Regions from separate parts of the Homo sapiens genome. Here region 2 is linked to region 1. Evidence: fine-mapped expression QTL. A gene starts in region 1. The other region holds a variant in brackets. All regions are shown on one strand. Distances are from middle to middle.

What was found. PIP is the estimated chance that this variant, and not a neighbour inherited with it, causes the effect.
Region 2: its variant is the best candidate, but not a certain one, in a credible set for the expression of ITPKC in whole blood (INTERVAL, PIP 0.58).

The regions. Positions count from the first base shown.
Region 1 is chr19:40,715,847-40,718,753 of GRCh38, reverse strand. It overlaps ITPKC (inositol-trisphosphate 3-kinase C), which reads right to left and starts at 1,642. Exons shown (of 7, transcript NM_025194.3): 1 at 464-1,642. The coding sequence starts at 1,618. COQ8B (coenzyme Q8B) reads left to right here and starts at 1,868. Exons shown (of 15, transcript NM_024876.4): 1 at 1,868-2,167. RefSeq lists a silencer at 1,392-1,751 and an enhancer at 2,322-2,401.
Region 2 is chr19:40,650,755-40,653,661 of GRCh38, reverse strand. No RefSeq gene overlaps it. Among named protein-coding and RNA genes, the nearest start is that of NUMBL, 38 kb to the left of the region's middle. RefSeq lists an enhancer at 1,375-1,424. The variant G/T (reference allele first, on the strand shown) is at 1,476.

The DNA.
Region 1 (2,907 bases):
GGTTTGTGACCCTTTAAGACAGCCACAGGCCCCAGATTAAGAAATGTGGGGTAGAAAGTGCACCCTGCCTGTCTCCCTATCCCAGTGTTCTTCAGATTCCAGAGGATTAGACAGATGTCAGACCGTCGCTGCAACAATGTATGTGAACACGCACGGCAGGCTCCTTAGTCCTACAATTTCAGGGGTTCCTGGGCCCCATAAAGTCGGTCAGTGGCCCTCCATTGTAGACCCCCAGGAGTGGAGACAGTGCAGGAAGGGGAAAGGAGAGAATTAAGAAGGGGTGCCTGGAGTGAATTAGTAACCTGGCTGTCAGAGGGAGGAGGTCAGTGGATGGAAGAGGTTCCCGGAGATGAAATTGCTGGTGGGCAACTAACAGTAAATGGGTAGAGAACTTCCTAAGCAAAGGCGGAGGAATAAGGAGTTTTGCGTGATGTGGCTCAAGGGCAGGATGGGTCCCACTCACCCCAGACCTGTCCTCGGGATCGCTGGCACCTCCGCCCCCGGCCACCACGTCATCCTCAGACTCGTCGAAAGAAGAGGCAGAGGAGAAGCCGCCGCTGCCCCCCTCAACCCGGGAGGGGGGTCCCACTGGCTGGGCCTCAGGCTCAGGGGTCTCAGGGGTAATGATGAGGCGGGGCACAGGGCACAGGGGGCTACACTTCAGGTGAGAGTACAGGTGAGTCAGCAATTCTCCAGGCTCTGGTTCCTCTAATGGGCCATCCTCAGGCTCTCCCAAGAGGCAGTCTGTCCCAGGTGCTGTCTGGGAACCGTCAGTGCTAGGTTGTGTCCAGGAGCCATCAGTATCCTGTTGTATTTGGAAACCACCAGTGCCAGGCTGTTTCCTGGCTGCTTCAGTATCCTGTTTTTTCTGGGAGCCATCAGTATATGGCTCTGTCCAGGGACCTTCAATATCCTGTTGTGTCCTGGAGCCATCAGTATACAATTCTTTCCAGGAGCCATCAGCACTTGGCTCTTTTGAGGGACAGGCTCCTTCTGGGTGAGTCTGGAGGCTGGAACTGTTCTGGTGGGTCCAGAGGTTATCAGCCCAGGACTTGACCCTCTCTGGCTGAGTCTGTGACCCATGCGTTTCCAGCTCTGTCCAGGGCCCATGAACCCCTGGCTGTGTCCAGGGGCTGGCCTCCTCGGGCTGAAACTGGAGGTCGGACCTGTGCGGATCAGTCCAAAGGCCATCTGTCCCGGTCTCCGTCCAAAGACAAGTCGTCTCCAGCTCTGACCAGCTCCATTCTAGATGCGTCCGGAGGCTGGACCTGTCTGGCTCCGTCTTTTGCTTGGGCCTCTCGGTCTCTACTCCAAGGCCAGCTGCCGCGGGCTCAGTCTGTCCGTCTGTCCAGAATTCTGCCTGCGGACTCTCTGTCCCCGGCGCAGGCCCGAGGCCGGCCCTCTCAGGCTCGCTGTGGAGGCTGGACCCCTCTGTCCGGGCCCAGGGCCCGCCCCCCTCCGGCCGCCCCGCCGGGGCCCCTGCGCCGGGCCCAGGTCGCTGCTGTCCCGGCTGCCGCCGCCGCCCTCCTCGCGGCGCCTCCAGTCCCATGCGGGCCGCCGCGGGCAGCGCCCCGGCCTCCGCCTCGTTCAGGCTCCCACGGCACGGGCAGCGCCTCATGCCCGCTCCTTCGGTTCGGGCTTCGGCCGACCCGGCCCCTCCTATCCCTTTAAATCCCGCGAGGGGTGTGGCTGGGGAGCCCCGACTCCCGGGTTCCGGCCCGCGGAGCTCCAGCCCGCCCCGCCGCGCAAGGGTTAACCGATACTCCCCTCAAAGGGGAAAGCCCCGAAGCCCCGCCCCACCGGACGTGACGGAACGGAACGAGACGGAGCCTTGTCCGACTCCGCCTCCCAAGGGGAGGGGGTTTGCCTCTGAGCATCCGAAGCGCGGCCAGGTATGCATCTAGGGCACCGGGGTCCTGGTGGCGCGCCAGTGGGCCCCCTCCCTCCACCCCTGTGACTAAACCACCCTCCCTACACGGTTGAATGACAAGTTCAACCTTCCCTAAAACCCCCGGTGACGAGTCCAGCCGCGCGCCCATTCTTCACGCAGGGGCGGGACGGACTTTCAAAGACTTGGAGTTCCCACGGGTGTGGGTTCGAGACCTTCCTCTGCCAGTTCCCAGCTCCGCTACCCTGAGCAAATGACTTACGCTCCATTGGATTTTCCGTAAGAAATCTCTGTCATGTATAGAGTACTTGTTCTGTATCAGACCCTGACACGATTTCAGTTCATTCTCCAAGGCTGAACAATAGGGATGCCAGGGCTCCATTTTACACGTGAGAACAGAGGCTCAGAGATCTGCCGGCCTCTACCCTTTGCTTGCAGCTACGGGGCTATCTGACATGATCTCATGTATGTGAAGCATGTGGCCCCGGGCCTGGCACTGTCAGTTGTAGCCCAGTAGGATTATTTATTGTCCTAGGTGATTTTGATATATTTTGCCCCCAAGGCTGAGCTGCCACCCAGCTCCTGAGTCAGCCGTTCACCTCTGAAGGGGGAGAGGAGGTGGTTTGTCTTGAAATTGAGTCAACTGGGGGAGACATTGGGCACAGGTCCAAGGCTCTAAAATGAGTCACCTTTTCACAGACCAATGAGAGAAATCGAAGGCAGGAGCCCACCTAGTACCTCATACAGGTTGGGAAGGAGAAGTCCAGAGAGGGATGAGGGCTTTTCTGAGGTCACACAGTACGGGAATAGAGACAAAGAGGCCTGATTCCCGACAAGAGGGGTTGGGGCAGCGGGGTTCTGTGGGGGAAGCATCGGCATCCCTCCCTCTCCCAGTGGTGGGAAAGATGCCCCAACCAGATGCCTCTATTCCAGACTGTGAGAAGTGGGTGAGTCAGCCTGTTGTGGGGAGAGCAGGCTTTCCAACGCGCGCGCGCACACACACACACACACACACACAC
Region 2 (2,907 bases), 65 kb after region 1:
TCTCAAAAAAAAAAAAAAGTTATAACCCACACAAATAAAAGCTGTTTGGGGTCCTTGATACTATTAAGAATGTAAAAGAGTCCTAAGACCAAAAAGTTCCAGAACAGTTGCCTATAGCAACATTTCCCGAGTCACTGTGACAGTCCCTAAAGGATCCCACAGATCCCCAAACATTTCCCCAGGCCCAGGCCCTGGATGACAGTCACAGCCATGAGCTGCCGAGAGCTCTTTGGGATCAAGACCTTTCCTTCAGGTTCGTACTATGATGTCAAATTGGATTTTTCCCAGAACTTCCAGAATTGCTACTACTGCCCAAAACTGAGGACAAAAGTGGCCAACTACCCCAGAGCCTAAGTTCGAGGTCACTGCCATTATAACCAGCCACTTACCCAAATAAGTTACTGAGAGGACCCAAGGCTGTCCAGAAAAGGATAGAGAAGAGAAAGGAAGCATCATCCTGTTTGGGGGGAAAATGAGAGAGGAAAGTTCTCAAGAGAGGCTACACCTTTCCCTCCCCATGAACTTTGTGGGTTTTTTTGTGTATTTGTTTGTTTGAGACCGAGTCTCACTCTGTCGCTCAGGCTGGAGTGCAGTGGTGCGATCTCAGCTCACTGCAACCTCCACCTCCTGGGTTCAGGTGATTCTCCTGCCTCAGCCTCCTGAGTAGCTGGGACTACAGGCACATGCCACTATGCCCGGCTAATTTTTAAATTTTTGTATTTTTAGTAGAGACGGGGTTTCACCATGTTGGCCAGGCTGGTCTTGAACTCCTGACCTCAAGTGATCCACCTGCCTCGGCCTCCCAAAGTGCTGGGATTATAGGTGTGAGCCACCGTGCCTGGCCTGAAGGCTATGTTTTTAAATGAATGAAAATGAGAGAAATATTAAAGACTCTAGCAAAATTGTCATTAAGTTTCCCTGTAGCCTTTATCCAACAGGAAAAAGGAAATTAACAATACATTTATTTTTAAAAATAAAAATAATAGACAGGCCGGGCGTGGTGGCTCACTTCTGTGAGCCACCTTTGGGAGGCCGAGGTGGGTGGATCACTTGAGGTCAGGAGTTCAAGACCAGCCTGGCCAATATGGGGAAACCCCGTCCCTACTGAAAATACGAAAATTAGCCGGGTGTAGTGGTGCGTGCCTGTAATCCCAGCTACTCCGGAGGCTGAGGCACGAGAATGGCTTGAACTGGCAAGGTGAAGGTTTCAGTGAGCTGAGATCGCACCACTGCACTCCAGCCTAGGAGACAGAGCTAGACTCTGTCTCGAAATAATAATAATAATAAAGACACAGTCTTGGGGCCAGCTGTGGTGGCTCATGCCTGTAATCCCAGCACTTTGTGAGGCCAAGGTGGGTGGATCATTTGAGGTCAGGAGTTCAAGACCAGCCTGGCCAACATGGTGAAACCCTGTCTCTACTGAAAATTCAAAAATTAGCCAGGCAGTAGTGGTGTGCACCTGTAATCCCAGCTAC[G/T]CAGGAGGCTGAGGCAGGAGAATCTCTTGAGCCTGGGAGGCAGAGGTTGCGGTGAGTGGAGATTGCGCCACTGCACTACAGTCTGGGCGACAGAGTGAGACCCTGTCTCGAAAACAATAAATAAATAAAAAAGACACAGTCTTGGATGCTGTGATTTTGGATCATAGTCTTGGAAAACAATAGATAGCAGGTAGAGAGCAGTCACTGCAGAACAAATGGAAACTGTCATGTTTTTGATCCCAAGGGATTGAGATTTCTCAATAAACTATTTCTGTTTAGAACAGGGAGTTGGAGCTGTGCCCAGGTGGATGTTATTGGGCACAGGCTGTATAGAGGTGGGTCTTAAATCAGTACCAGTAAAAGCCAGATGTAACTTCCAAAGATGGTGGCAACAATGTTTCCCAGCCCATATATTCCTCTAGAACTTTGATACCCCTTCCATTGGGAAGTGGAATTTGTGTAAGCTCCCCTTACATCTAGGCAGTTTGTGACTTGCTTGTAACCAAGACTATGTGGCAGAAGTAATGCTGCATGATTCCAAGGCTAGATCAGAAGAGATAAGGCCCCTTCCTTTCCTTCTTTCCTTCCTTCCTTCCTTCCTTCCCTCCTTCCCTCCCTCCTTCCCTCCTTTCTTTCTTTCTCTCTCTTTCTTTCTTTCCTTCCTTCTTTCTTTCTCTCTTTCTCTCTTTCTCTTTCTTTCTTTCATTTCGATGGAGTCTCACTCTGTCGCCCAGGCTGGAGTGCAGTGGCGTGATCTCGGCTCACTGCAACCTCCGCCTCCCAGGTTCAAGCGATTCTCCTGCCTCAGCCTCCTGAGTAGCTGGGACCGCAGGCCCGTGCTACCATGCCCAGCTAATTTTTGTATTTTTAGTAGAGACGGGATTTCACCATGTTTTCCAGGCTGGTCTTGGACTCCCGACCTCAGGTGATCCACCTGCCTCAAGCTCCCAAAGTGTTGGGATTACAGGCGTGAGCAACCGCACCCAGTCGCGGCTGCTACTTTCATAAAACACTTGTACTGGATGCCGAAGCTGCCATGTAAGTCCAACTGCCCAGAGGCTGTCATGATGTGAGGGAGCCCAAACCAGTTCGCGTGGAGAGACCACATTGAGAAGCCCTGAGACAACATGGAGTGGGGAGAGAGTAAGAGAAAGAGAGAGAGAGAGAGATCCATCCACCCCCAGCTGCTTCCCTGTTCCAGTTTCAGCTGCCAAGTGACTGCAACCATATGAAATTCCAAGTCAGAACTGCCCAGTTGGGTCCTTCCCAAAACTCTGACCACAGACACAGTGAAAAATAATAGGATGACTGTTGTTGTTTTGGGCCACCATATTTTGGAGTGATTTGTTACCAAGCAATAGTAACTAGAAAGAGGGAAATGTGTGGAGCATAAGGAGCTTGCAAAGAAAAGCAGCCTTAAGAGGTGAGAATG